Homo sapiens: one gene and its partners. Each later gene encodes a partner of the first gene's protein in a complex. Each region holds a gene or a part of one and is shown in the gene's direction. Other genes may lie near its edges.

The links.
Region 2: NUP85 (region 1) and NUP107 share a complex: the UniProt entries of both Homo sapiens proteins name them as parts of the nuclear pore complex.
Region 3: NUP85 (region 1) and CETN3 share a complex: the UniProt entries of both Homo sapiens proteins name them as parts of the nuclear pore complex.
Region 4: NUP85 (region 1) and NUP98 share a complex: the UniProt entries of both Homo sapiens proteins name them as parts of the nuclear pore complex.

What each region holds. Positions count from the first base shown.
Region 1 is NC_000017.11:75,222,475-75,230,038, forward strand, and holds part of NUP85 (nuclear pore complex protein Nup85), read left to right. Parts: intron 1-2,628; coding exon 2,629-2,763; intron 2,764-2,867; coding exon 2,868-2,990; intron 2,991-3,223; coding exon 3,224-3,355; intron 3,356-3,548; coding exon of another isoform or gene 3,549-3,576; coding exon 3,577-3,683; exon of another isoform or gene 3,684-3,684; intron 3,685-4,270; exon of another isoform or gene 4,271-5,691; coding exon of another isoform or gene 5,692-5,806; exon of another isoform or gene 5,807-6,657; intron 6,658-7,564. UniProt on the Homo sapiens protein: Essential component of the nuclear pore complex (NPC) that seems to be required for NPC assembly and maintenance. As part of the NPC Nup107-160 subcomplex plays a role in RNA export and in tethering NUP96/Nup98 and NUP153 to the nucleus.
Region 2 is NC_000012.12:68,689,589-68,697,152, forward strand, and holds part of NUP107 (nuclear pore complex protein Nup107), read left to right. Parts: coding exon 1-31; intron 32-1,014; coding exon of another isoform or gene 1,015-1,042; coding exon 1,043-1,158; intron 1,159-2,379; coding exon 2,380-2,524; intron 2,525-7,230; coding exon 7,231-7,334; intron 7,335-7,564. UniProt on the Homo sapiens protein: Plays a role in the nuclear pore complex (NPC) assembly and/or maintenance. Required for the assembly of peripheral proteins into the NPC. May anchor NUP62 to the NPC. Involved in nephrogenesis.
Region 3 is NC_000005.10:90,399,674-90,407,237, reverse strand, and holds part of CETN3 (centrin-3), read left to right. Parts: intron 1-1,438; coding exon 1,439-1,553; intron 1,554-7,564. UniProt on the Homo sapiens protein: Plays a fundamental role in microtubule-organizing center structure and function. As a component of the TREX-2 complex, involved in the export of mRNAs to the cytoplasm through the nuclear pores.
Region 4 is NC_000011.10:3,675,081-3,682,644, reverse strand, and holds part of NUP98 (nuclear pore complex protein Nup98-Nup96 isoform 1 precursor), read left to right. Parts: intron 1-2,936; coding exon 2,937-3,091; intron 3,092-6,024; coding exon 6,025-6,136; intron 6,137-6,268; coding exon 6,269-6,486; 3' UTR 6,487-7,564. UniProt on the Homo sapiens protein: Plays a role in the nuclear pore complex (NPC) assembly and/or maintenance. NUP98 and NUP96 are involved in the bidirectional transport across the NPC. May anchor NUP153 and TPR to the NPC.

The sequences.
Region 1 (7,564 bases):
TATATGTTTATATATTTGTGATTTTTTTTTTTTTTTTTTTTTTTTTTTTTGAGATAGAGTTTTGCTCTTGTTGCCCAGGCTGGAGTGCAGTGCCTTGAATACTGAATTAGTGAATATTGAACCATTGCTCCTAGGGGAAATACAGGGTTAGGTTCCTGCAAGCCTCTGGTCATATTTTGTTCAACCAATCAATATATAACCGATCACTTGTTTTATGTGTGTATCTGTTTGGAGACAACTTACTTGACATAATATTGTTGAATCATTAACAGTGAAGTCAGCCAGGCGCAGTGGCTCACGCCTGTAATCCCAGCACTTTGGGAGGCCGAGGCGGGCGGATCATGAAGTCAGGAGATCAAGACCATCCTGGCTAACACAGTGAAACCCCGTCTCTACTAAAAATACAAAAAATTAGCCAGGCATGGTGGCAGGCGCCTGTAGTCCCAGCTACTCGGGAGGCTGAGGCAGGAGAATGGCGTGAACCTGGGAAGTGGAGCTTGCAGTGAGCCGAGATCGCGCCACTGCACTCCAGCCTGGGCGACAGCAAGACTCTGTCTCAAAAAAAAAAAAAAAAAAAAAACTCAGGGCCAACAGCACTATAATTCGTGTCTGAATGAAGCTTATCTAACACCTCCCATAGTTCTTGCACTTAGCAACACTAGAAAGCACTTCAGTACTACACGTGGGGACCCAAGAAAATGTACAAAAATGAAAAAAATGTGGCACTAACTGCATCACGAGAAAGCCTTGTTTAGTGTGTGTCAAGCAACTCAATATTCTTGCCACTCTTAATTTTGATTTGAAAGTACCACAAATACTGATTTGGGGGTTACAGATAAATTTTAGTGAGTAGGCAGATTCACAGATAAAGACTGAACAGTGAAGACTATTTGCATTGAGTGTATATTTTATGTTATGTTATGTTATTTTTGAGATGGAGTCTCACTCTGTCACCCAGGCTGGGGTGCAGTGGCGTGATCTTGGCTCACTGCAACCTCTGCCTCCCGGGTTCAAATGATTCTTGTTCCTCAGCCTCCCGAGTAGCTGGGACTACAGGCATGCACCATCACGCCCGGCTAATTTTTGTATTTTTAGTAGAAACAGGGTTTCACCATGTTGACCAGGCTGGTCTTGAACTCCTGACCTCAGGTGATCCACCCGTCTCGGCCTCCCAAAGTGCTGGAATTACAGACGTGAGCCACCACGCCTGGCCTGAGTGTATTTATTTTACATATTTATATTTGAACTGAAACTTTTATGAACCATTTTATTTAATGCATTCTGATATTTTATATTATTTCATTTTAATTTTTTTCCAAACAAAACTTCTCACATATTTATTATTGAACCAACCTACTATTGTAGAGCTTATAATCAGAGAAAAACCATTTTCTCAACAAAGTATGTCCACCTTTCCAGATAGTGGTGACAGTTTCAGCTTGATGTGATAAGATGATAGTCTTACGTGTAGACTCATCTCATGTGTAATTCCTGGCAGACCCAGCTTGGTTCTTCTCCAGTCCCTCCTCTTGGGGTTGTAGCTAACTGTATTAGCAATTTTGTTTTATTTTGTTTTGTTTTGTTTTTTTGAGATGGAGTCTCACTCTGTCATCCAGGCTGGAGTGCAGTGGCACAATCTCAGCTCACTGCAACCTCCGCCGCCCAGATTCAAGCGATTCTCCTGCCTTAGCCTCCCAAGTAGCTGGGACTACAGGCGCCTGCCACCACGCCTGGCTAATTTTTTGTATTTTTAGTAGAGATGGGGTTTCACCATGTTAACCAGGATGGTCTCGATCTTCTGACTTTGTGATCTGCCCGTCTTGGCCTCCCAAAGTGCTGGGATTACAGCTGTGAGCCACCACGCCCAGCCCTGTATTACCAGTTTTAATCTGAATCCACTGGTGAATGGGACGATTTTGCTTTTGTTTCTTGGCCAGGAATTGCATGATCCTGGACATTTTGTGAGAAGATGGTGGGAGAAATAATCAACAGCACACACCATGATGGTGGAGAAGGGGTGGGGGGAAGCAGGTAGAGGAACATGTTTTTCTGTTTCTTTCATTTTTGAAAAGCTGGGGCTGAGCGTGGTGGCTCACGCCTGTAATCCCAACACTTTGGGAGGCCGAGGCGGGGAATCACTTGAGGTCAGGAGTTCGAGACCAGCCTGGCCAATATGGTGAAACCCCATCTTTACTAAAAACACAAAAATTAGCTGGGCGTGATGGCATGCGCCTGTAATCTCAGCTACTCGGGAGGTTGAGACAGGAGAATCGCTTGAACCCGGGAAGTGGAGGTTGCAGTGAGCCGAGATTATGCCATTGCACTCCAGCCTGGGCAACAAGAGGGGAACTCTGGAAAAAAAAAAAAAAAAGGTGGTCACAGGCTATAATGGACTACAGCTGGCTGTTTGAAAAACATAGTGGAGGTGACAAAGCCATGAGATTGGATGTGATAGATTACTTCTGGAGGGAAAGAGCCATCATTCTTCCCAGGGCAGACTCAGGTGCAGAAAGAAGCCTGTGTGTGAAGAGTTAAAAAGCCAAAGTGTGGGGTGAGGGGACTGGCCTCCTCACGCCTCGGCAGGGCCAGGCCTCCTGCCAATGCTTATGGGCCCGGATCTCCTCCCAGGTGACCATCTTGGTGCTGCAGGGCCGGCTGGATGAGGCCCGACAGATGCTCTCCAAGGAAGCCGATGCCAGCCCCGCCTCTGCAGGCATATGCCGAATCATGGGGGACCTGATGAGGACAATGCCCATTCTTAGTGTACGTGGGGGTAGCTTTGCTCTGCTGGGTCACAGGAGATGCGTGATTCACTAAATATAAAGGGTGTGGATGGGATGACGTCTCATGGCTGGTCTCTCCCTTAGCCCGGGAACACCCAGACACTGACAGAGCTGGAGCTGAAGTGGCAGCACTGGCACGAGGAATGTGAGCGGTACCTCCAGGACAGCACATTCGCCACCAGCCCTCACCTGGAGTCTCTCTTGAAGGTCTGGGAAGCAGTTCAGATTGCATCCATGTTGGCTTCCTATGGGGGCTGTGGCATCCAGTGCAGCAGTGGCAGGAGCTTGGTCCTCCTTGGATAGGGCTGTCTGTCGCTCTGCCGTGATGGCGAGAGCTTTCAGACTAGTTGAAATCCGGTGCCCTTAGCTGAGAGCAGGAGCATTATGGAGAAGGTACCCCTGAGAGGAGGACAGAGTTCAGCACAAATGTCTCTCCTCAGATTATGCTGGGAGACGAAGCTGCCTTGTTAGAGCAGAAGGAACTTCTGAGTAATTGGTATCATTTCCTAGTGACTCGGCTCTTGTACTCCAATCCCACAGTAAAACCCATTGATCTGCACTACTATGCCCAGGTGAGTGAGCTCGGGGTGGGCAAGGGTGGGGGTAGGAGTCCTGGGGGCGCCCTGATGGGTCATTCTCTTTGAATTCCTCCCTGAGGAACAGGAAGACCCTTTCCTTTGGCCCTTAGTGAAAGAACAAGGCACCTTCTCTGGGGTTCGTTATACAGCAGCCCTGCCTGCCCCGAGTCTCTGCTTCCGTCCTCAGGATTGAGTGTCTCATCACCTTTCCACAGTCCAGCCTGGACCTGTTTCTGGGAGGTGAGAGCAGCCCAGAACCCCTGGACAACATCTTGTTGGCAGCCTTTGAGTTTGACATCCATCAAGTAATCAAAGAGTGCAGGTAGGATCTCTCCCACCCCCCACTGTAACCATTTTTAGGTGTACAAATATCACCACCTTGCGTTTCTAGAGTGGCCTGTTCCTTCCTTACCCTTCTTCCCTCAGACCTGCTATCTTAGTCCATCTCACGCTGATATTACAGAATACCTGAGACCAGATAATTTATAAAGAAAAAGATTATTTTCTCACCGTTCTGGAGGCTAGGAAGTCCAGGATCAGGGCACTGGCAATGTTGCTGGTGAGGGCTGCTCTCTGCTTCCAACATGGCACCTTGAACACTGTGTTCTCATGTGGTGGAAGGGCAAGAAGGACAAACTCCCTTCATCAAGTCGCTTTATAAGGGCACCCAATCACATTCATGAGGGAGGATGTGGCCTAATCACCTCCTGGCCTAATCACCTCTTAGAGGCCCTACCTCTTAATACTATCACATTGGCAAAACTGGGGTTTTAGAGGGGATCCCTTCAAACCATAGCATCTGCTCCCCTGCTTGACTTGCCACAGGTAGATAATGGCTTTTCTCTGGGTGAGCTTAGGGACTTCCTGGAGGCTTGAGGGCTACCATATACATAACTGTTTCCATTTCAGGGATGTTCATTTAAAATAACATCGCGGGAAACTACTTTGACATTTAAAATCTAGAAAAAGCCAGCAAGCCTGTTTCTTGGCACCTAATGGACACCTTATGGGATGGCGTGTTCCAAGAGTCTCACTCCAGTGACGTGAGCTACCGAACCACTGGGCTTCAGGCTGGGTATTATTCAGAATTTCCAGCCCTCTATCCAAAAGAGGGTGTTCTATGATTGCACTGAATCTTTAGCAAGGCAGGAAAGGGAGTGCCAAACATAATCAATCAAAGGTAAACCTTTCCAGAACTCTCCATATATGGTAAGTCAGAAAGAAGGTCCCCTTCCTTGTTGTGCACCCTGGATGGTGGGCATTGCACTGAAGACGTGCTGGGAAGGGAGGAAGTGGGTAATGGCAGAAGATGGCCTTGATCAGGTGTCAGATTCACTGACCTCAACTGGCTGTTTGTAGATCTGGGCATGGGAAGAGTTTCCTTCGCCCTACCTGCTTTTCTTGTTTTGGCCAAAAGAATGCCAGGGCTTCAAGAAAATGATACTAGATTTGGGGAATGAAAAACAAGTTTTTTGTGTGTTTGTTTCTGGGTTTTTTTTTTTTTTTTTTTTTTTTTTGAGACAGAGTTTTGCTCTTGTCACCCAGACTGGAGTGCAGTGGCGTGATCTTGGCTCACTGCAACCTCCACCTACTGGGTTCCAGCAATTCTACTGCCTCAGTCTCCCAAGTAGCTGGGATTACAGGTGTCCGTCACCACGCCCAGCAAATTTTTGTGTTTTTCAATAGAGACAGGGTTTCACCATGTTGCCTAGGCAGGCTGGTCTGGAACTCCTGACCTCAGGTCATCTGCCCATCTCGGCCTCCCAAAGTGCTGGGATTACAGGCGTGAGCCACCGCGCCCTGCCAAGTTTTTTTTTTTTGAAACAGGGTCTCACTTTGTCACCCGGGCTGGAGTGCAGTGGAGTGATCTCAGCTCACTGCAGCCTTGACCTCCTGGGTTCAAGTGATCCTCTTGCCTCAGCCTTCCAGGTAGCTAGGACTACAAGTGTGCGCCACCATGCCTGGCTAATTATTATTTTTTTTTTTGGAGAGATGAGGTTTCACTATGTTGCCCAAGCTGTTCTTGAACTTGTGAGCTCAAGCGATCTGCCTGTCTTGGCCTCCCACAGTGCTAGGATTACAGGCGTAAGCCACCATGCCCGGCCTGAAAGTCAAGTTTTGTGTCAATATTTTCACAGGCCTGTAAACATTGTGAGAAGTCCCTGCATGGAAGAATTAGTGAGAATAACTTAAAAACACACAAACACACCATCGTTTGGCTTTGTTGGTGTCTCTGCCCATAGTTGAGTATTCTAAATTTCCTGTGTTATAACAGTGAGTGAGTTTCACCAGGGCTTCCTAATTTATAAGCCCTGTATCTGGATTTTTAGGAATAAAACAGATTTGAGCAGAAGAAGTCTGTTGGATGCAGGGAGTATAAAAGGGGAAAGCATCCTGCTGTTTCCAGTGGCAGAAGAGAAAGAGAAGTACCATGAAGAGGGGTGAACAACATCACTCTCGTGCCGGACACAGACAAGGAATGATTAGGCTTGCAGTCCCCCAGTCTCAGCCTCTCTCCACTCTCACAAGCAGGAAGGGATCTGAGCTCTGTTAGTGGGAAATCTTGGAGTTTGCATTTCTCTGATCACGAGGCTACCTCCTATCCTGTTTTGAAAGAGGAACAGAAAAGCAGAGCTTGTCCCAGGAATTGTGAAATGGGCTGCAATGTCTTCAGAGGCAGTAGCAGTTTTAGGAAGTGTGCCCTCCTGGCTCTGGGGAAAGGTTGAATTGGGGTCTTGTGGGCACTTGTTTTCTCATGGGATGTATCAGTCAGACCCATGCACAGTTCTGGGCGGCAGGGAAGTGTGTCTCTTTCTGGACTTGAGCCAGTGAGCTGTTGGCATGCCTTTTTAAAGGCATTAGAAAAAAGGTTTCTTTCTTTTTTTTCCTTTCCTGTTCACACCACCTTCATATGAACATGGAGAAGGGAGGTTTCTAAGTGGGCCCCTGATTTACTCCTATGTCAATAATCGTGCCAGACCCTAAGGGGCAGAAAAGGCAGCCAGGGGATCCTGACTCAGAGGCTGTAGTTCGTCAGCCCTGCTAAAGGGCCAGGGGTTTGTCTCTCAGTGCCTGGGTGGGCATGCTTGACTGCTAACCCCTTAGCTGAAAGGAGATGGCAGGAGTCCTCCACAGGGTCCCTTCTTCCCTCCTGGCTTACAGCTTCCTCTGAAGACGGGCCAGTTCCTTGCTGTCTGGCAAGAGGAAACAGCTGGGGTGCACTTCACTGGGAGTTGGGCAAGATGTCGGCAGTTTCCTGGTGCCCTTCAAGTCCTCCAAAAGTATCGAGCTAAAAGGTGACAAGTCTTCCTTCAATAACCAAGAAGAGTTCCAGCTTAATGTCTGCTGAATCTAGAATCTTCTGACTTGTATTTTGGCCCAGCCCACAATCTTGGATGCAGGGTGCAGCAGTGTTTACAAACCTCACACCCCATTTCCAGAATAGCAGGTAGAGGCACTGGAGCTTTGATTACTCCAGAGCCCCCAACAAGCAAGATGGGGCCTGGGTAAGGAGTTGACAGTGACCTTAGTACAGGACAAACAGCTCATTTGGGGCTACAGTTGCTTAGAGGGGTCACCTTCACCGTAGCTGGTCTTCCCAACTCCGCAGCGTTCTCTCGTTTTCAGCAGAGGGCTACTTTGGAGCTGATAATTAGGCCTTTCTTGCCTTGAATGTTAAGGATGCCCACCTGCTCTGTGTCTCGGCTGCTCACTCAGAATCCTTCAGAGTGAGAGAGAGACAGAGTGAGAGTGGGAGTGTGTGCGTGTGTGATCTAAGACCTAACTGTGTGGTTCAGGCCTGCTGGGCCCTGTAGAGAGACCGTGGTGGCTTTGTGCAGCACTATGTCTGGTCTCCGTCACTTGAGTTGTGTTGTTAGTTCTCTGCTCTCAGTGCTTGCTGCCTTCCAGCCTTGGAGGCTGCTGGATCCTTTGGGAAGACACCGGGCACTGTCTCAGCCCTTCCTTCCAGTTGTTGGTGGCTTTCGTGCAGGCTAAGGCTTTGGCTCCCTTAGCCTGGGTCCCCTATAGCCTTTTCACTGGCTTCTCCAATGGTTTCGACATAACCATCAGCTAGAAATCTGGGTAGCAACAGCTGTTTTGGGAAGCTGAGGTGTCCTTTCCCCTGGCCCAGCCCACTCCCTCCCATTTTTTTCCCCAGCTTTATTGAGGTGTGATTAACAAAGTAGTATGTATTTAAGGTGT
Region 2 (7,564 bases), on another chromosome or scaffold:
CCTCGAACTCCTAGCTCATTTCGACAGCCTTGTAAGATTTTTTGCTTTTAAAGCATTTAATAATAACGGTAATTATAATAGCAACTAACATTTATTGTAACATAATTAGTATAGTATTTGGTTACGATATCAATAAGCACTAATAATAATGATTGCAGTTATTATTCGTTTGAACTCTTGCCATGTACAAGGTACTGTACTTTCCATAAACACACGGTAACTATGACATGGGTATTGTTGGCCCTGTTTTACCAAAACTGAAAGTGAGACTTAGAGAAGTTAACTAATATATACAATAAGTATGTAAATAGGCTGGATGCAGTGGCCCATGCCTATAATCTCAACACTTTGGGAGGCCAAGGTGGGTGGATCACTTAAGGCCAGGAGTTCAAGACTAGCTTGGCCAACATGGCAAAACCCTATCTCTACTAAAAATACAAAAATTAGCTGGCGTGGTGGCACATGCCTGTAATCCCAGCTACTCCGGAGGGTGAGGCAGGAGAATTGCTTGAACCCGGAAGGCAGAGGTTGCAGTGAGCTGAGATTGTGCCACTGTACTCCAGCTGGGGCGACAGAGCAAAAAAAAAAAAAATCCCAGTTCCATTATTTACATACTCTTTTTTTGTTCTGAGACAGAAAAAAAAGAGTATGTAAATAATGGAACTGGGATTCAAACAATGATCTGTTTACTCCAAAGTTTATGCCCACTACACTGCACTGCCTCAGTATGCCTTATAAAATTAAAATATGAAGAATCCGTTGACTGATTAGTGTCTTTAACTGCTCAGTTATTCTATAATGAAAGCATCTGTAATTGCAGTAAAATGTTTCCTGTTAGGCTCAGTAGTACCTACAGCTCAAATTTAGAAAAATAAGTTAAATCCTTGTATCATGGAAATGTTAACATTTAAAGTATTTATTTGGTTAGAGTCTAAATAATGGAAAACTGAAAAATTTATTCTTCATTGTTTGTTTGCTTACTTTGTTTTGATAATGAATGCTCACGCACTTTAGGTTCTTTCTACCAACCTTTTGTTTATAGTTACCCCAACAAGCCGAAGCTTACTAAGGCAGCCAGATATTTCCTGCATTCTTGGAACAGGAGGGAAGTCGCCCCGACTTACGCAGTCTTCAGGGTTCTTTGGAAATCTCTCCATGGTATGTAGAAAAATAGGGCTAAGAACTCCTTTTGGGTCGAGTGTGGTGGCTCACATCTGTAATCTCAGCACTCCCTGAACTCCTGACCTCAAGTGATTCTCCCGCCTTGGCCTCCCAGAAGTCAGGAGTTTGAGACTAGCCTGCTTAGCATGATAAAACCCTGTCTCTACTAACAATAAAAAAATTAGCTGGGAGTGGTGGCTTATGCCTGTAATCCTAGCTGCTCGGGAGGCTGAGGTGTGAGAATTGCTTGAACCCAGGAGGCAGAGGTTGCAGTGACCTGTGATTGCAAAAGAAAAAAAAAAGAGAAAAAAGAACTTCTCCCTTTTTATAAAAATATGATATTTGATGTAAAAGTCTTTTAACAAATATTGAGTCAGAATCATCATAACAGTAACTTTAGGTTATATGGATTGAAATAATTAGACAGTAAAAAAACTGAAAACCTTATGCATCTGATATCACAGATGGAAACTGTGACACCAGCAACCTTTAGATGAAAATAAGATGTTTTAATCTGTCAGTTTGCTGACCAGAAGAAGTACATGCTGTGGTTGGTTGCTGATGGCTATAAAATCTGATCCCTGTTTTGAAGCATACAAGAGTAGGAATCAGAGGTTAACAGATGAAGAATATCTTAAGGAAGAGATAAAATGTATTAAAGGGGATAAAAGAGAAAATTGGAAAAAGTAGGTGAGATACTCTTTAGGAATCACTATGGAACAGTATTAAAAATAGCAAAAGAAATGTTATGTAAGCTGTGATGCAGAATGACTTCACCTAAGTATTAAAAATACACTATAGTAGCCGGGCATGGTGGCTCACATCTGTAATCCCAGCATTTTGGGAGGCTGAGGCAGGTGGATCACATGAGGCCAGGAATTTGAGACCAGCCTGGCCAACATGGTGAAACCCCATACCTACCAAAAATACAAAAATTAGCCAGGCGTGGTGGCACGTGCCTGTAGTCCCAGCTACTTGGGAGGCTGAAGTGGGAAGATGGCTTGAGCCTGAGAGGCAAAGGTTGCGTTGAGCCATGATCGTGCCACTGAACTCCAGCCTGGGCAACAGATCCAGACCTTATCTCAAGAAGGGAAAAAAAAAAAAAAAGACGCATACATACATATAATTTTTAGAAACCTTATTTGTTTTTAAAGTATCCACTCAGTGACAATAACTCCATCACTTTTCTGTATTTTTACTTTTTTGTTTTTTTTTAAGGTTACTAATCTGGATGACAGTAACTGGGCAGCTGCATTTTCATCACAGCGTTCCGGGCTGTTCACAAACACAGAGCCCCACAGTATAACAGAAGATGTAACTATCAGTGCTGTTATGTTACGTGAGGATGATCCTGGAGAAGCTGGTAAAATGGCATTGAGCTTTGTGACAAGTAGCTTTTCACTTTAGCAAGATGAAGGAAACCATTTCTTCCTGTTTCTGAACGTCATTATGTTTTTCTTTTCTTTCTTTCTGTCTTTTTTTCTTGAGAGAGTAGCTTAAACAACAGATTTTTGTGTGTGTGTTTTTTGAGACAAGAGTCTCACTCTGTTGCCGGGCGCGGTGGCTCATGCCTATAATCCTAGCACTTTGAGAGGCCGAGGCGGGCAGATCACGAGGTCAGGAGTTCAAGACCAGCCTGGCCAACATGGTGAAACCTCGTCTCTACTAAAAATACAAAAATTAGTTGGGTATGGTGGTGCACACCTGTAATCCCAGCTACTTGAGAGGCTGAGGCAGGAGAATCGCTTGAACCCGGGAGGCAGAGTTTGCAGTGAGCTGAGATCGCACCATTGCACTCCAGCCTGGGCTACAGAGCAAGACTCCGTCTAAAAAAAAAAAACAAAAAAAAAAACAGTCACTCTGTCACCCAGGCTAAATGCAGAAATGCAGTGGCACAATCATGGCTCACTGCAGCCTTAACCTCCCAGGCTTAAGCAATTCTGCAGCCTCAGCCTCCTGAATAGTTGGGACTGCAGGCATGTACCACCATGCCTAGCTAATTTTTTTTTTTTTTTTTTGAGATGGAGTCTCGCTCTGTCACCCAGACTGGAGTGGAGTGATGGGATCTTGGTTCACTGCAACCTCCGCCTCCCAGGTTTAAATGATTCTCCTGCCTCAGTCTCCAGAGTAGCTGGGATTATAGGCGTCTGCTACCACACCCGGCTAATTTTTGTATTTTTAGTAGAAACGGGGTTTTGCCATGTTGGCCAGGCTTGTCTCAAACTCCTGACCATGGGTGATCCACCCGCCTTGGCCTCCCAAAGTGCTGGGATTACAGGTGTGAGCCACTGCGCCTGGCCGCCAGCTAATTTTTTATTTATTTATTTATTTATTTATTTTTTTTTTTAGACGGAGTCTCACTCTGTTGCCCAGACTGGAGTGCAGTGGTGCAATCTCGGCTCACTGCAACCTCTACCTGCTGTATTCAAGTGATTCTCCTGCCTCAGTCTCCTGAGTAGCTGAGATTACAGGTGCCCACCACCACGCCTGGCTAATTTTTGTATTTTTAGTAGAGAGAGGTTTCACCATTTTGGCCAGGCTGATCTCGAACTCCTGACCTCAAGTGATCCGTCCTCCTCAGCCTCCCAAAGTCCTGAGATTACAGGCGTAAGCCACTGTGCCCAGCCTAATTTTTTATTTCTTTATAGAGACAGGGTCTACAAAGACCAGCCCAGGCTGGTCTCAAACTCCTGGACACAAGTGATCCTACCGCCTCAGCCTCTCAAAGTGCTGGGATTATAGGCAACAACATAAATTTATTTTCTCACAATTCTGGAGCCTAGATGTCTGAGTTAAAGGTCTTGGCAGGGTTGGTTTTCTCTGAAGCCTCTTCTCTTGGCTTACAGATGGCTGTCTTCCTCCTGTGTCTTCATCTGGTCTTCTGTCTATAATATATTTTTCCTTAAGCTAATTAGTTGTGGTTATGGCAATGGTATTTGATACAGTATCACTAGAAGGTTGAGAACCTCACCTTGGTTCTCAGTCTGAGCAGCATCTTGCCATTTTATCTTTTAATGTAAATAGCAGCCTGTTACGTTATTAGACAAGTCTCATATTGTAATTTTTTTCTTATTTGTGCTGTTGAAAGAGCATCTCTTTCTTTAGGTTTAGTTCTTAATCTAACATTGTTGATGTGTTTTGTTTTCTCCTGGACCGTAATGCTGTTATTTTTTTTCAGATAGTGTTATGACCACTGTACAAGCATTAACTCATGTAATCCTTATGGTGGTCCATTAAATAGTTACAATAATTATTCCCATTTTAGAGAAAAGGAAACTACTGCTCAAAGTGGTTAAGTAACTTACCTCAAACCACCTGGCTAGGAAGTAGTGGTACCAGGATTTGAAACTAAGCAGTTTAGCTCCAGAGCCCTGCTCTTAACACTTTGGTAACTACTACTTTCTTGTAGTATCTGTCAAAAACAGGTACTCGTATTAAGTGACTCAAAATACTTTCTACTTAGGCCAAGTGCCTGTATTTTCCCAGAGTGGAACATGCCATTTAGTATGTATTATAACTTTCTCCACTACTTTGTAATGGTGTGCTTAAAATATAATTCAGATATTTTTAAATCTGGCTCAATTTCTTAAGTAATTGTTTATAAAATAACTAGTATATCTTTGAGATCTTAAAAGACCTTTAGGTATCAAAAGAAAAAATAGATAAATTGGGCTACATCAAAATTTTAAACTTTTGTGCACGAAAGAATACAATCAGCAAAGTGAAAAGGCAACCCACAGAATGAGAGAAAATATTTGCAAATCATATATCTGCTTAGGGGTTAATATCCAAAATGTATAAAAACTGCTACAACTCAACAACAAAAAAACAACCCAATTTAAAAATGAGCAAAGAAATAGAATAGACAGAGGCTGGACGCAGTGGCTGATGCCTGTAATCCCAGCAATTTGGGAGGCTGACGCGGGTGGATCACCTGAGGTTGGGAGTTCGAGACCAGCCTGACCAATGTGGAGAAACCCTCTCCCTACTAAAAATACAAAATTAGCTGGGCATGGTGGCGAATGCCTGTAATCGCAGCTACTCGGGAGACTGAGGCAGGAGACTCGCTTGAGCCCGGGAGGCAGAGGTTGCGGTGAGCTGAGATCATGCCATTGCACCTCCATCCTGGGCAACAAGAGCGAAACTTCATCTCAAAAAAGAAAGAGAGAAAGAAAGAAATAGAATAGACACTGTTCTAAAGAAGATTCACAAATGACCAGTAAGCACATGAAAATATACTCAAATGTCACTAATCATTAGGAAAATCCAAATCAGAACTACAGTGAGTTACAAGATACTGCCTTACACCCGTTAGTGTGGCTACTGAAAAACAAACAAACCAACAACAAGAACAAAAACCCAGAAAATAACAAGTATTGACAACAATGTGGAGAAATTCAAATCCTTGTGCACTATTGGTTGGAATGTAAAATAGTACAGCTGCTATGGAAAACAGTATGGCAGTTCCTCAAAAAATTAAAAATAGAATTACCATATGATCCAGCAAACCTGCCTCTGGGTATATATCCAAAAGATTGGAAAGCAGAGTCTCAAAGAAATATTTGTACATGCATGTTCATAGCATGATTCATAGTAGCCAAAAGGTAGAAGCAAGCCAAGTACCTGTTGATAGATGAATGGGGGAAACAAAATGTGATCTATACATACAGTGGAATATTATTCAGCCAAATATGAAGGACATTCTGACACATGCTACAACATGGATGAACCTTGAGAACATTATGCTAAGTGAAATAAACCAGTCACAAAAGGGCAATACTCTATGGTTCCACTTACATGAGATATTTAGAATAGTCAACACATGTAGGGACAGAAAGTAGATGGATAGTTGTCAGGGGCTGGGGTAAGTGGAGAGTGGGGAGTTAATGTTTATTAAGTACAGAGTTTCAGTATTACAAGATGAAATAGTTCTGTGGATACATAGTGGTGATGGTAGCACAACAATGTGAATGTACTTACTGACACTGAACTATACACTTAAAAATGATTAAGCCAGGGATAGTGGCTCATGCCTTTAATCCTACCACTTTGGGATGCTGAGACAGGAGTTAGCAAGACCCTGTCTCTACAGACTAATAAAAAATTAGCTGGGCATGGTGGCTGGTATATACCTATAGTCCCAGCTACTGGGGAGGCTGAGGTGGGAGGATCACTTGAACCTAGGAGTTTGAGGCTATAGTGAGCCATGATTGCACCACTGTACTCCAGCCTAGGTGACAGAGCAAGATCCCCCTCTCTTAAAAAAAAAAAAAAGAAAAATGATTAAGATAAATTTTATATTATGTGTATCTTGCCAATTAAAAAAAATTTTGAGGCTGGGTGCGGTGGCTCACGCTTATAATCCCAACACTTTGGGAGGCCAAGGTGGGCGGATCATGAGGTCAGGAAATCAAGACCATCCTGGCTAACACAGTGAAACCTCGTCTCTACTAAAAATACAACAAGTTGGCTGGGCATGGTGGCACGCACCTGTAGTCCCAGCTACTTGAGAGGCTGAGGCAGGAGCACCGCTTGAACCTGGGAGGTGGAGGTTGCAGTGAGCTGAGATTGCGCCACTGCACTCCAGCCTGGGTGACAGAGTGAGACTCTGTCTCAATTTTTTTTTTTTTAATATAGCAGTGAATTTATAAAAGACTTGTAGCCATTTAAATTTTCAAACAGGCTGGGTGCGGTGGCTCACGCCTGTAATGCCAGCACTTTGGGAGGCTGAGGCGAGCAGATCACCTGAGGTCAGGAGTTTGAGACCAGCCTGGCCAATATGGTGAAACCCCATCTCTACTAAAAATACAAAAATTAGCTGGGCATGGTGGTACATGCCTGTAATCCCAGCTAGTTGGGAGGGTGAGGCAGGAGGATCACTTGAACCTGGGAGGTGGAGGTTGCAGTGAGCTGAGACCGTGCCATTGCACTCCACCCTGGACAACAAGAGTGAAACTCCATCTCAAAAAATAAATAAACAAATAAATACATTTTCAAACAAACGGAATTACCTAGAAGTACGTCACTTAACTTTTCTTTATTCCTTTTTTTTTTTTTGATGTGTTCTAGCATCCATGAGTATGTTTTCTGATTTCCTGCAGTCTTTTCTGAAGCACTCTTCGAGTACAGTTTTTGATCTTGTGGAAGAGTATGAAAACATCTGTGGTAGTCAGGTAAGCTAATTTCACTCCGTCGTTAGTCAAACTTCAGTATTTTTAGTTTTCATAAACAGCATTAACCTAATTTTCATAGTGTTTAAGGGAGGTGTCTTAGGGGAACAGTGGCAGGAGTGGAGGGAAAGTCAACTAGAGCATCCCTGCGTCTTACATATTGAGGGCCCATACAAGATTTCTTTGGGAGAAAAAAGGATTCTGCTGCTTTAAAAAAGGAAAATCCAGCCAGA
Region 3 (7,564 bases), on another chromosome or scaffold:
TGTTGACACATGCTAATAGGTAAAAATGTCAGCTTTAAGACCTAGAATGTCAAAGTGTAGGGAGAGATTTGTAAATTATTATTTGTCAGGGTATAAGGAGAGATTTGGGTTTAGGGTAGAATGGGACTTACTTTCAGCACAGTGGGAAAGATAGTATTTTGAGATTTTTAATGGCCTTAATGGATAGGTGAATGTAAGTGTTTATTTGGTAGTTTTAATTTTTGTAATTTCGTAAGGGATTTTTAAGCATTAGAATTCCAAGTAGGGATAGGAACTATGCAGTGACAGGATAGAATGTATAAAAGCAGTTAATAGGCCTGCTAAGTCTAGCTTTCTCAATCTTGCAGTCCTCTTTGGCTCTCTTTTCCCACTGTTTTTTTTGTTTTTTTTTTTTTTTGGTTACCCAGATTTGATCTTCCTTTATAATGTCTGTTCCATTTGTAACCATTGACTATCTTGGTTTGGGACCTTATTTCATACCTGGAGCTTCCTAAATGATTTCTTACTAGTTCACCTTGTACACTACCACTGAATTTAGATAGTTTAAAAATTCTTTCACCATTGCTCATAAATTGTTCATTGCTCATAAACCATAACTCCTCATTGTATACTACTTAAAGTTCAGATTCCTTTGCTTTCTACTGAATGTTCTCTACACTTTTGCCACCAACTACTTTTTTCATTTGCTAACTGCTTTCTTCCTCCTGAACTCTTCTAATTAAGGTGGAATTCACCTCCTAATTCAGGTGAGCAGTTTACCTCACCTGAACTTTTCTAATTCAGGTGAGGTAAACTGCTCTGTTCATTGTCCTTCGAACCTATTCGTTTCAGTGTTTCTTTTAATACCAGTCATCCTTCCCAAATACCCTACTGCTCCTCTTCATCTATCCTTCAAGGAACAGTTTGAATCTTTCCAAATAAGACTTCTCTAGTCAGTAATATGTCTCCTTCCTTATTATTAGTAACAAAATCTCTTTTTTCTCTAAACTCAGGGTCCTTAGCCCTATCATTTACCTGGTAACTAATCATGGAAAGACTGATGATAATTCTTGTTTTAATGTTTTATCTCTTCTATCATGTAACTGTTTAATATTTATGCCACGCCTTTTTCTCATTTTGATTGTTAATCCCTTCAGAACAAATAACAATCAAATTATCTGTGCAATAAGTTAGTGCATTTTATATAGTAAAATCTGTAAACACTTGTTGGTTACTTTGTCATATAAAAAATGCAATTTATAAATGAAAAAACTTATGCATACTTAATTTCAGTAGTGAAGAACAATTACACTATCACTGCTATTTTAAAGAGGTAAAACATGCAAAAAAGTTATATTTTATTAATGTGTTGTCATCTCTTAAGATGTAAAAACTTAATAATTAGAAATTCTTTTGTAAAGAGTGCTTTATAATTTGCTTTTCCTTTTTAATCCAAAAGGTGGCAATGAGAGCCTTGGGGTTTGATGTAAAAAAAGCTGATGTACTGAAGATTCTTAAAGATTATGACAGAGAAGCCACAGGGAAAATCACCTTTGAAGATTTTAATGAAGTTGGTGTGTATTTTAATAGTCTTTGTAATCAGCAGCTGTTAGGAAATTGTCTGATTAATATCACTTTTTAAATTTTAAATTCTCTAGGTTATGGAATTTTCTTATAGAACACTGGTGTATAATGTGACTCTTACTCAGTTTTGTTTTGTTGGTTTTTTTTTCAAAGAAAAAATATGGCTTTGCTCTGAGATTTATAGTTTTGTCTTTTGTTTTGTTGTGAAGATTCTAACCAAGGAACTATTGTGTAGCTTTTTATAGAAAGATGCTTTTCCAAGTTGTTTGTATTTATATTATGTGATAAAACTTGAAGGGTGATCAAAAAATTATTTTTGCTTAATAAAACAGAAAATTTGATATCCTGCTGTTTGGAAAATGTTTCCCAAGACCTTTCTGGTATGTGATTTTTGTTGGCTAAGTGGGAGAAGAGGGAACTGGTAGTAGTTGGTATCTTTGGCTGTAGATGAAATGCACGACTTCAGGTTGACAAAGTTTATGAGAGGCTACATCCTCTGGATGACCTTGATCTCAGTGGATAAAGTCATCTGTTTAGAGGGTAGTAGTAAAGGAGGCAGTGGGCATACTGGAAGCAGGAGAAAACATCCTAGTACCACCAACTGAAGATAATGTGTCATAGGCTTAATATGGCTAAATTTTTTTATAGTTGATTTTAGTGAATTATTTATAGCATATATAGACCAGGCTTTTTCAAAATAGAAGAGTCCGGAAGGCAAGGATGTTGCTATTATAACTTAAATGTATTGTCTAGAATATTATCTACAAAATATGTAAATATTCAGGTTTATTTCTTTTTTTTTTTTTCTCTAAACCAATGGGTCACGATATAAGCACATCATATAAGTATTTTAAGATATTTTAAAAATTTGGAAACAAATTCTGCTATATACACAAACCCCTTATTTTAAATATTAATCAAGAAGCAATAGGGGAAGCAAAAAGAAATGGCAATTAGTAGACGCAGAGAAAATTTAGATTCATGTCATTAGTCAGTTTTTTAAATCCAAAAGCTCAAGTCATAAGCAGTTGAGATGGAAAATAAATGATGAACCTAAGAGAAAAAAAACACAGCACAGAAGATCCTCAACTTATGAACTAATATATGACTGTTTAGAGAGGCAACTTGTCCATTGGGGACATTTTCCTTTTTTCCTCTAATTTGTAGAATTAATTATTTGAGGAAAGGGAGAGAGCCACCTTTTGTTCTCCCAGAATGGACACTCTCCTGAAGTTTATGATCGTAGTATTCCTAGTTTTACCTTAGATTGTTTATTTGTAGAAACAAGGTGTTTGTATATAGTGGAAATGGTACTATTAGGAAGGAGCTATAATCCAGGTATGTTTAGTACAGTATAGTGGTTTAGCACTTGGAACCAGATTCCCTTGGTTCATACCTTGGTTTTGCCACTTTACAGCTCTGGAACTTGGTCTTTTTAATACCCCATGCCTCATTTTCAACTATAAAGTGGGGATCATTGTATTCTCTCATGAGATTCTTCTAAGGATTAAGTTAATGATATGTGAAGTACCTAGAAAAGGGCCTAGCATGTTGTAAGTGCTACTAAGCATTTGCTATTATTATTACTTTAAAAAATTGTCTTTGTTTCAGGGGCTCGAAATAATCATATATGCATCACTGGGACATAAAATAGACTTTGTGTATATTTTTTATTGACTTTTTTCATAAAGGCTATTGTAAGCACTGTATCATCACTAATAATTTTACAAAATATGTTATTTCACCTTAAATGAACACAATTTAAAAATTGTGATTTTTTTTTTTTTTTTTTTTTTTTTCTTTTGAGACAGAGTCTCGCTCTGTCGCCCAGGCTGGAGTGCAGTGGCGGGATCTCGGCTCACTGCAAGCTCCGCCTCCCGGGTTCACGCCATTCTCCTGCCTCAGCCTCCCAAGTAGCTGGGACTACAGGCGCCCGCCACTACGCCCGGCTAATTTTTTGTATTTTTAGTAGAGACGGGGTTTCACCGTTTTAGCCGGGATGGTCTCGATCTCCTGACCTCGTGATCCGCCCGCCTCGGCCTCCCAAAGTGCTGGGATTACAGGCGTGAGCCACCGCGCCCGGCCAAAAATTGTGATTTTTATTGGCAGTTGGGACCAGAATCCCATGCCACCTCCACTTTTTCCTGACACCCCATCTGTTCTATGTTATTAACAGAGCAGAAATACTGGGTTCCTTCTAGAATAAATAGATGTGGCTAAACTTCAGCTTTGACACTAAAAGATTAACCTTTTGACAGGGTCAACATGTATCTTAGCTATCTTAAGGCTACCTATGGAGAGTACCAGGTGTCAAATAAAAATGTATTACTGTTTGGGAATCATTCAGGAACTATGTATTACCCCTTTTGTTGATTATTTTTAACTAATCACTGACCACAGATTAATATGTTTTATACTTTGGGACAGATGATTCTAAATCATAACATTTGAGTCCTAGTTTTATGAACTACCCAAGGACACTGTTCCACAGATATATCTGGATGAAGTTTGGCAGTTAACTATTATAGACTCTTCCTAGTACTGGAAAAAAGCTTTAAAATATATTTAATTTAAGTTTAGAGTCAAGACAGCCTGAGGCTAGTGAGTAACATAGATATTTTAGGAATTAGTGTCTTTAAGACTAACATAAGTCAAACGTTTGTACACTATTTTTGACATGTACTACTTATTATTGCTGATTGAGATTGTAATACTGTATTATTGTCTTCATTTTGCTTATTTAACACTGAATTTTTTGGTATTAGGTACTGTACTGGGGTTGGGAAGAAGACTTAATTAAAAGTTACTAAAAGGTTCTTCTTTCAGGGAGTTTACAATGTAAATATAGGTGACAACAGGCTATAGTACTATGTGGTAAATTGTAATTTTGTCTAGGACAGAAGTCAGCAACTATAGCCTTTGGACCAAATTCAGCTGCTGCTTGTACACCACCACACCCCTTCTTTTATGCAGCTTTTGTGCTACTATGGCAGAGTGAGTAGTTAGAGACTTTATGGCCCTCTACAAAGCCTAAAATATTTACTATTGGCCTTTTACAGGAAAGATTTGTTAATCCCTGATCTAGAGGAATTGAAGTCTTTGCAGAGGAGATTTTAAATTTAGGCCTTTGGAAATGTGAGTAAGATTTCATTCCAAGATTGCCAGGAAGAGTAGAGAAAAAGCATTCTAGGCTTAGAAAGCAGCAACAACAAAGAATGGTACTAGACGGATAGCATGTTTGGGAAACTAGGTAGTGTTCTGGGCTAGACATAGGGAAATGACTGGAAACATAGGATTGGGCCAGATTGGTAAAGTCTTGCAAAACATGAAGATTTTGAATTCTAGTCAGCAGAGATCATTCACAATTTTTAAGGGAAGGGGATATGATATGTTTGAGAAAGAAAACTGATGAGAGTATTATTGATGATGAGTTGGAAGGAAGAGAGACTGCAGACAGAAAATACTATTTTTTTCGCTGAGGATGGCGAGGGTGAAAAGAAAATACATTTAAGAATAAAAAAGAGGCTGGGCTTGGTGGCTCATGCCTGTAATCCCAGCACTTTGGGAGGTCAAGGCGGGAGGATTGCTCGCTCACAGGAGTTTGAGACCAGCTGGGGCAACAAAGTGAGATCCTGTCTCTACAAAAAAATTTTAAAAAATTAGCCAGACATGATGGCACATGCCTGTAGTCCCAGCTACTTTGGAGGTTGAGGTGGGAAGATTGCTTGAGCCCAGGAGTTGAGGCTGCAGTAAGCTGGGATCACGCCATTGCACTCCAGCCTGGGCAACAGAGCGAGACCTTGTTTTAAAACAATAAATAAATTAGAAAAAAAACAGTATTCTCAGTACTATAGGACCTGATTAAGTTTGTGGGACTGAAAATGATTTATGCTTTTCAAATATGGAATCTAGCTGTAAATGTTGCTGTTATCTTTTGGTTGGGGTAGGGGAGGCAGCTGCAGTTACTATGGTGGTAGTGGAATGAGTTTGGAGTCCAACATGTCTAACTGGTATGTTTGGATAGAAATTTCCGAAAGACATTGAGAAATACAGTTAAAGCTGTATTTCTAGCATTACCTATAATAATTTTTAATTTACTTTTGATGTGATGTTTTTGGATTTGCCGTATTCTTAAGTGATTTTTACACATTAAAGGTCTAAGAAAGTATTTTGATGAAGTACATTTCTGATAGTATGTGTAATTAAATCATTTGAAAATACAGTTGCATGGACAGAAATTTGGAGTTTTGTGAAATAAATGAAACCCACCTTAACTGCCTCTATATCAGTTTACTAATATTTTCATTGAAAATAAATATATTCCTTATAATTAAATTCTACTTTGTGGAACAAGAATAGAACCTGAAGGCATGGAGGAGAGTCATTATAAAGTTATATATTAGGTAATGTTTTTGCTGTCCAAAATGATGAGCATTTATAATTCCCAAGAAAAGCTGCATTTTAAGGAAGAATATTGATAAAAGAATATATAGACACATAGCTCTGAAATAACTAACACAATTAAAGTACCAGTGGGATAAGAATTTATACATCTTGGAGCCCCATCTGTTCCCCAATCACCCTGTTGCTTCTTTAAGTACATTAATACTTTCAGCAAGCTGCTTTTTTGGTTCACCTGTCATGTAAATTATTTAATTGGTGAAGAAAATTTCTTAACACTTTTTTTCCTTGTCCTGCTTTTTTGTTGGGACTAAATTCAAAATAAGTTGAGTATGTGCCATAGAGTTAAGTGTGGTATTTTATTTTGGTGTTATGGCTGTAGATATGCCAGCTTCTTTTTGACTGAATATTTATGAGCTTTGATGATTTGCATACTTACAGTAATATACTTCAATTAGTTACTTGGAAGCCTTTTTGGATAAAATTAATGGATAAAAGGAAACTATTGAAAATATGTGTAGATGATATAATAGTCATTTGAATAGGTGATTATTGAACCAAATACGGGTGAAACAGCAGCAAAACAACAGCTTGTTGGAGACTTCGATTGTATTTTTTTCATTCTGGGTTCCTTAAACATTCCAGTATTTTCCATCTATAAGCAGTTGCTTTTTTTTTTTTTTTTAATGATTCTGTAACCTTCAACAGGACCGAGTTATTTTTAATAGCATAGTAAAGGCCATAAATACCTTTTCTTGTAGTGGCAGATAGTGTATATAATTACTTCAGAGATACTTATTTAGATACTGTTAGAATTTTATTTAGTAACTTACCAATTTTTATGCCATAGATTTTTATTTTAATTTTTATTGTGGCTATTGATTAAAGACTGGTAAAATTGAAAATACTTAAGCTTATTACTATGTTATTACATGTGATTATATTTAGTGTATTAAAATACACAATTACCATTGAGGTTTGAAACTACATTTATTTTTAGTTAGTTGTCTGAGAGTGATTTATCCAAACAAAATGGGTAAGCTTTAAGGAGACCTTCTTTGCAGAGGTTTTTTTTGGGTGGGCTTTCCTGCTATAGTCAGATTTGATCCTATTTACTACTTTGTAAATTTTGGAAAACCAAGAGGTTCTTCTAATCACAAAGGTATTAGTGGAATTTTCAAATGCTGTCTGAGATTGTGCCTGTGTCTGCGATGGCAGTACTTTTTGTCTCTTGCAGTTTTTCTTGTTTTGAAGTTGGATTAAATTTGAGGAAGAATCAGTGTTAGTATGACGTTTAGTCAGCAAGCAGCTTTTATTTAGTTAGCTCCAATTATTTTGTTGGTATGTCTCTCCACAGGTAGATGACACACTCCTTGTGTGCTTGATGTCAGTGGAGCCTAGTACAATTCTTGATAATAGTAGATCTTAAATAAATATGGTATAAATGTAGTCCTTTTTATTTTGCCTCTGTGTGATATAGTTTTGCTTACTTTTATAATAAGACAAGTTGCTCATGATAAAAAAGGTTAACATTTAAAATATGGATTTGATTTTTCTAATTTCAGGTTTATCTCGGGGTTTGGGGATCTCATTTGACATT
Region 4 (7,564 bases), on another chromosome or scaffold:
AGCAATCTTTGATGTTGCTGTTTTGTTTTGGGGTGCCACCAACTGCATCCATATAAGATGGTCAGTTGATAAATGTGCATATTCTGGCTGCTCCATCAACTGGTCATCCCCATCTCTTTCCCTCTCTTTGGGCCTTCCTATTTCCTAAGACCCAATAATCACGAAATTAGGCCAGTTAATAACCCTACAATGGCCTCTAAATATGTTCAAGTGAAAGGAAGGGTAGCACAACTCTAACTTTAAACAAAAGCTTGAAGTGATTAGGTGTACAGAGAGAAGCATGTTGAAAGCCAAGATAGGACAAAAGATAAGCCTCTTTGCCAAACAGCCAAGTTGTGTTAAAGGAAAGTTCTTGAAGGAAATTTAAAGTGCTACTCCAGTGAACATATAAATGATATGAAAGTGAAACAGCTTTCTGGCTGATGCGGAGAAAGTTTTTGTGATCTGGATAGATGAAACCAGCCACAACATTCCCTTAAGCAAAAGCCTAACCTCCCTTCAGTTCTGTGAAGGCTGAGAGAGGTGAGGAAGCTACAGAAGAAACGTTTGAAGCTAGCAGAAGTTGCTTCATGAAGTTTAAGGAAAGAAGCTGTCTTTCCATTCCATTAAAGTGCAAGGTGAAGCAGGAAGTGCTGATGGAGAAGGTACAGCAAGTTACCCAGAAGATCTAGCTAAGATCATTGATGAAGATGGTTACACTAAACAACAGATTTTCAGTGTAGATGAAACTGCCTTCTATTGAAAGAAGATGCCACCAAGGACTTTCATAGCTAGAGAAGAGAAGTCAATGCCTGGCTTCAAAGCTGCAAAGGACAAGTTAACTCTCCCTTTAGGGCTAATTCAGCTGGTGATGGTAAGCAGAAGCTCATTTACCATTCTAAAAATCCTAGGGCCCTTAAGAATTATGCTGAATCTACTCTGCCTGTGCTCTGTAAACGGAAAAACAAAGCCTGGATGACAGCATATCTGTTTATAGCTCAGTTTACTGAATACTTTAAGCCCACTGTTGAAACCTGCTCAGAAAAAAAAAAAATTTCTTTCAAAATATTACTGCTCATTGATGATGCACCTAGTCAGCCAAGAGTTCTGATGAAGACGTATAAGGAGGTTAATGTTTTTATGCCTGCTAACACATCTACTCTGCAACCCATGGGCAAAGGAGTAATTCAGCTTTCAAGCCTTATTATTTAAGAAATACATTTCATAAGACTATAGCTGCCATATAGATAGCGATTCCTCTGATGGATCTGGGAAAGTAAATGAAAACCTTCTGGAAAGGATTCACCATTGTAGATGTATTTGTAGGCCAGGCACGGTGGCTCGTACCTGTAATCCCAGTACTTTGGGAGGCCAAAGCGGCAGATTGCTTGAGCCCCAGGAGTTCGAGACCAGCCTGGGCAACATGGTGAAACCCAATCTCTACAAAAAATACAAAAATTAGCTGAGCATGGTGGTGCGTGCCTATATTCCCAGCTATTTGGGAGGCTGAGATTGGCGGATCACCTGAGCCTAGGGAGGTTGAGGCTGTAGTGAGCCACGACCATGCCAGTGAACTCCTTCCTGGGCAACACCGTGAGACCCTGTCTGGGGCGGATGGTGGGAGAGGAACATTTGTGATTGGCCAGGCATGGTGTTATGTTCCTGTAATTTCAGCTACTCAGGAGGCTGAGGCAGGAGTACTGCATGAGCCCAGGAGGTTGAGGCTGCAGTGAGCCATGATCACACCACTGCACTCCAGCCTGGGTGACAGAGGGAGATCCTGTCTTAAAGAAAAGAAAAACAAAAAAGAACATTTGGGTCCGGGCATGGTGGCTTACACCTGTAATCCCAGCACTTTGGGGGGCCAAGATGAGTGGATCTCTTGAGCTCAGTAGTTCGAGATTAGGTTGGGCAACATGGTGAAACCCCATCTGTACCAAAAGTACAAAAAAATTAGTCGGGCCTGGTGGCACACACCTGTGGTCGCAGCTATTCGGGAGGCTGAGGTTGGAGGGAGGATCACTTGAGCCTGCGAGGCAGAGGTTGCAGTGAGCCAAGATCGTGCCACTGTGCTCCAGCCTGAGTGAGAGAGTGAGACCCCAACAAAAAAATACACAAAAAACATTTGTGATTCATGGAAGGAGGTCAAAATATCAACATTAAATAACAGGAGTATGGAAGGCATTGAATCCAGCCCTCATGGATGAGTTTGAAGGGTTCAAGACTTTAGTGGGGGAAGTACTTGCAGATGTGATGGAAACAGCAAGATAACTAGAATTAGAAATGGAGCCTGAAGATGTGACTGAACTGGTGTCACTCATGAGGAGTTTGCTTTATAGACAAGCAAAGAAAGCAGTTTCTTGAGATGGAATCTACTCCTGGTGAAGATGCTGTGAACATTGTTGAAATGCCAGCAAAGGATATGGAATATTACTTAAGCTTAGTTGATAAAGCAGCAGCTGGGTTTGAGAGAACTGACTTCAGTTATCTTATTTTAAGAAATTAGCATAGCCATCACAACCTTCAGCAGGCAACACCCTGATCAGTCAGCAGCCATCAGCATCAAGGAAAGACCCTCCACCACCAGAAAGATGACTTGCTGAAGGCTCAAGTGATTAACATTTTTAGCAATAAAATATTTTTAAATTAAGGTATGTATATTGGTTTTTTAGACATAATGCTGTTGCACACTTAATAAGTGACAGTGGTATAGTGTAAACATAACTTTTATATCCACTGGAAAACCAAAAAATTTGTGATTTTATTGTGATACCTGCTTTATTGTGGTGGTCTGAAATGAAACCCACAGTATCTTTGAGGTATGCCTGTATGTGCTTTTACTTCTGAAGTCCAGCCAACATTATTTCTCCTTCCTTTCTGTCTTCCTGCCATGTCTTCTGTACTTTTGGAAACTATGCACTTGTGCAGACATTGTGCTCAATACTTTGTTTCTTCAGATGCCATCATTAATGAGAACTATGACTACCTGAAGGGGTTCTTGGAAGACCTGGCACCTCCAGAGCGCAGCAGCCTAATTCAGGATTGGGAAACATCTGGGCTTGTTTACCTGGACTATATTAGAGTCATTGAAATGCTCCGCCATATACAGCAGGTACCTGAGATCCTGAAACTGCTGCCTGATTTTCCTTTTCTCAGGCCCTTAAATCTTCAGATACCTCACAAGGCCTTAGTATACACTTGAGAATGCACTGACAGAGATAGCACTGTCAAAGCAGGCATCTTGCTGAGGCTCATTTGATATAACCGTTTCTGACAGCTATATCGAAACTTAAAAATGCTATTTTATGTTGATTACCAACTAGTATGTGCAATAGACATTCCTGAGGCTTGTCCATAGACAGTCTCTTCCCCTTGTTCAGTCCTAGTTTGAGTGAGAAGCCCAAAGATGAGAGATAAAATAAGAATGGAGATTTGGTGAGGGTGAGGATAGCTGTTTTACACATCATTTGGCATGTTTTAAAATTGCAAATATGGGTTTTAAAGTCAATGTCTTCGGTCAGTTTTTTTTTTTTTTTTTTTTTTGGAACAGAGTCTTGCTCTGTCATCCAGGCTGGAGTGCAGTGGTGTGATCGTGGCTCACTGCAACCTCTGCCTCCCAGTCTTAAGTGAGTCTCATGCCCCAGCCTCCCAAGTAGCTGGGAGTATAGGGTGTGTGCCACCACACGCAGCTAACTTTTGTATTTTTAGTAGAGATAGTGTTTCACCACATTGGCCAGGCTGGTCTTGAATTCCTGGCCTCAAGTGATCGGCCCACCTTGGCCTCCCAAATTGCTGGGATTACAGGCATGAGCTTACCGCACGCCTGCACGCAGCCTTAAGGTCAGTCTTTGTAGTCGTAAAATGAGTCTCCACTGCTTGCTTATGGTGCAAAAACCAAACTCATTATAATAAATATAGGATTCAAGTCCTTTTAGAGGCTTTTACCTTTCCTGCCTTACTCCTACCACTCTTATTCCACGTTCCAGCCTTGCTAGCCTGCTGTACTCACACTAAATTACTTCTGGTGTTTCTAACAAACCATATTATGTTCCACACTACCTAGCACACTTAAACTCATCCTTTTAAGATCTAGGTTGCTGTTACCCCTACTTCTCTCTGCTTTTCCCCAGAGATAATTAATTGCACTTTCTTACTACCAAGATACTTAGTACATTATTCTACTAGTGCACCTGTCAGACCATATTGTAGTTACTTATTCATATTTTCAGGTTGCTATAAGCCCCTTTTGGGAAGGTCTTTTACGGTTACAGGCAATAGAGTGTAGAGGTTAACAGCTCAAGTTCTGGAAGCAGACTTATAGATTCAATTTGTGGCTTCCAAATTCACTGGCTATGTAATCTTGAGCAAGTTAACTACCTCTCTCGTCTGAAAGAAAAAGGTGGGTGGGGTAGACAGTAGTACAGATTATAGTTCATATTGACAGATTTTCACAAAGATTAAACAAAATCTACATGAAGTGTTTTACATAGTACCTTTCATGTACTAAATGCCTTTTTTTTTTTTTTTTTAGGCAGAGTTTTACTCTGTCACCCAGGCTGGAGGGCAGTGGCACAATCTCAGCTCACTGCATCTCCCAGCTTCAAACAATTCTCCTGCCTCAGCCTCCCCAGTAGCTGGGATTACAGGCGTGTGCCACCACACCCAGCTTTGTGTGTGTGTGTGTGTATTTTAGTAGAGACGGGGTTTCACCATGTTGGCCAGGCTGGTCTCAAACTCCTGACCTCGGCCTCTACTAAATGCTTAATAATTGTTATCTATTATTATCCTCATCAAAGTTCCAACTCCTAGTACAGTGCCTGGCACATAATAGACATAATTCAATGTTTGCTGTACTTTTAGTATGAATCAAGAACATCATTTCTAAATAATCACTTGAAGAAACCACTTTCTCATTGAATATTGAGTAATTCATTCACACAACCTATTATGGAGAACTCACTGTATGCCAAGCACTGTAGTGGGTTTGGGGAATATAAAGGTAAACAGTATGTGTTCTGCCCTTACCAAAATAATGATTTTGTGGGGGAGATACATACAAGTAAAGCAGCAATTACTATAGCTTGATAAGTATAGGGATTAAGCAAAGGGTACTATCAATGTGCCAGCACATAGCTGGATGTGGTGGTGCATGACTGTAATCCTAGTACTTTGGGAGGCTGAGGCAGGAGGATTGCTTGAGACCAGCCTGAGCAACATAACGAGACCCCCCTTCTCCCAAAAAAAAAAAAAAAAAACCTATGTTACATAAAAACTCTCTAGTATTATCTTGTTCTGCTTCTTCTCCTTACCCTACATGTCACCATGTAAATCTCCTTTGAATTCCCACCTTTGGGGGTTTTAGCTGTCTTCTCTTTGCCTGGAAAGCTGAGCTCTCTCCTTGTTATTCAGGTCTCAATTTAAATATGACCTCCTTAAAGAAGCCTCTCTTGGTCCTCCAGTCTCAAGTAGCTATCCAGTTTCTCTCTGCCACATCCACCTGTTTAAATTATCTACATGGCTTGTGATTTTTCAGGATTTATTACTGTTTTGTGTTTTCTTATTTATTTTCTATCAGTTTCATGAGAGCAAATAACCTGTCTTGCTCTTGATCCTCCTGCCCCCTGCACACAGCTTTTTTGGTGTTTTAGAAAAGGCTATAAACTTGGAGTCAGGGGACCTAAATTAAATGTTGGTTCTGGCTGCATTTTTTACTTCCTTGTGTGCTCTTTAGAAGTCATACCATCTCTCTGAACCCAATTTATCTTGATTTTTGGTGCTGTGTTATTAAAGCTTGCTGTATAGTTCGGGATCTCAAGACTTTTCCTAGTCCAAGGCTAGGTAACTGTGTTACCTTCCTCTTGGCTATTACTGCATAATTAGTGCCTTGTCCTCCACTAGATGGTGGTGGCTTGGCCCTGTGTCATCATCTTGGATTTTCCCCTCCCTCACCTCACTGTTGTTTCAAGGTTTTGTGTAGAGTCTATAGGTGGGATTGGAGTGATAGGAACTCCCCTTGGATTAATTGGCTTCTCTGCTTCTTTGTAGGTGGATTGCTCAGGTAATGACCTGGAGCAGTTACACATCAAAGTGACTTCACTGTGCAGTCGGATAGAGCAGATTCAGTGTTACAGTGCTAAAGATCGCCTGGCTCAGTCAGGTAAGCCTCTAACCTCCTCACTCTTTCTGCCTTCTTGCTTCCTGTTTTTATGATTATTACACCCCACCCTCAGTGCCTACCACCCTTCTCCAGACCCCATGCTCAGTGCTTGACTCTAGTTTTTCTCTCTAGACATGGCCAAACGTGTAGCCAACCTGCTGCGCGTGGTGCTGAGTCTGCATCATCCTCCTGATAGAACCTCCGACTCAACACCAGACCCTCAGCGAGTCCCTTTGCGCCTCTTGGCTCCCCACATTGGCCGGCTTCCCATGCCTGAGGACTATGCCATGGACGAACTGCGCAGCCTTACCCAGTCCTATCTGCGAGAACTGGCTGTTGGGAGCCTGTGAGCCCCAGGCACTTTGCATCACAGTCACATGCCCATTCACACCACACAGAGGTTCCCTGCCTTGTTTGGATTGGCACTGTTTGCCATTCTCTGGGTTGGCTGTGGCATCTACCCTCCCTCCCTGCTGCCAGAAGCAGCATCCTCCACTTGTTCAGGGCTTTTCTTAATACTGAACGTAGCATAAGGGCTTCTGGAACCCAGAAGAGGAGACAGTTTACCATCCTCAAGATCATTCAGTGTTTTTCCTTTAAAAAAATGGTCAATAAAGCTCCTTTGGCAGAATCCCCCAAAGAACCAGGGTATTCTTTTTCCATCCCTAGCCATTCTGGATCTTGTGACCCTCCATGCCAACCAGCTTCCCTACTCCTACCCTGGCCCTTTTATACTAGGACTCCTTAGGAGGAGTGAGACAGGTGATAATGGATCCTTAACAGATGAACTATCCACAGAAGGAAGAGGGATCCGTCTCTTAAGTAATTGGTTAGTTAACACTGAATTTTGGAGGCAAAGGAGGGTTGGCCTGAGTTAGGAAACAAAATGGGATCTTTCTGACACACTTAGGGCAGAAGTGAATGCCTGTCACGGAGGGATTGATCTTCAGGGCTGTTTTTGTTCCTGCCTTTAGAGTTCCATGAACACCATACCTTTGCTACTACTATGTGCAGGAACCCTTGGTCACATGTGACATGTCTGTGGGAAGCTCCCAGAGTTTGGTTTGGTCCCTGGTTTTCAGTCTTGCTGAGACTCTGTCTGGATTTGCCTGCAGAGTTTGGATAAAAAATGGCAGGTTGGGTAACCCTCCCTGTTCATCCCATGTTAGCTCCAAAGCATTTCCCACCCTCCATCTACCCCTTCCAGAAGCAAAAACAAACCATGACTGAGGCAGGCATGGAGTTGGGCGTTAGGGGCAGGCAGAGGGCCTTTGCTACACTGCTGACAGCTATAGGGAGCCCCAGGTAATGGCATGAGATAGCTGGTGTTAGGGCTATCTCAGGCAATATGGCCACACCTGGGTCTTTATGCATGAAGATAATGTAAAGGTTTTTATTAAAAAATATATATATGTATAAATAAATGAT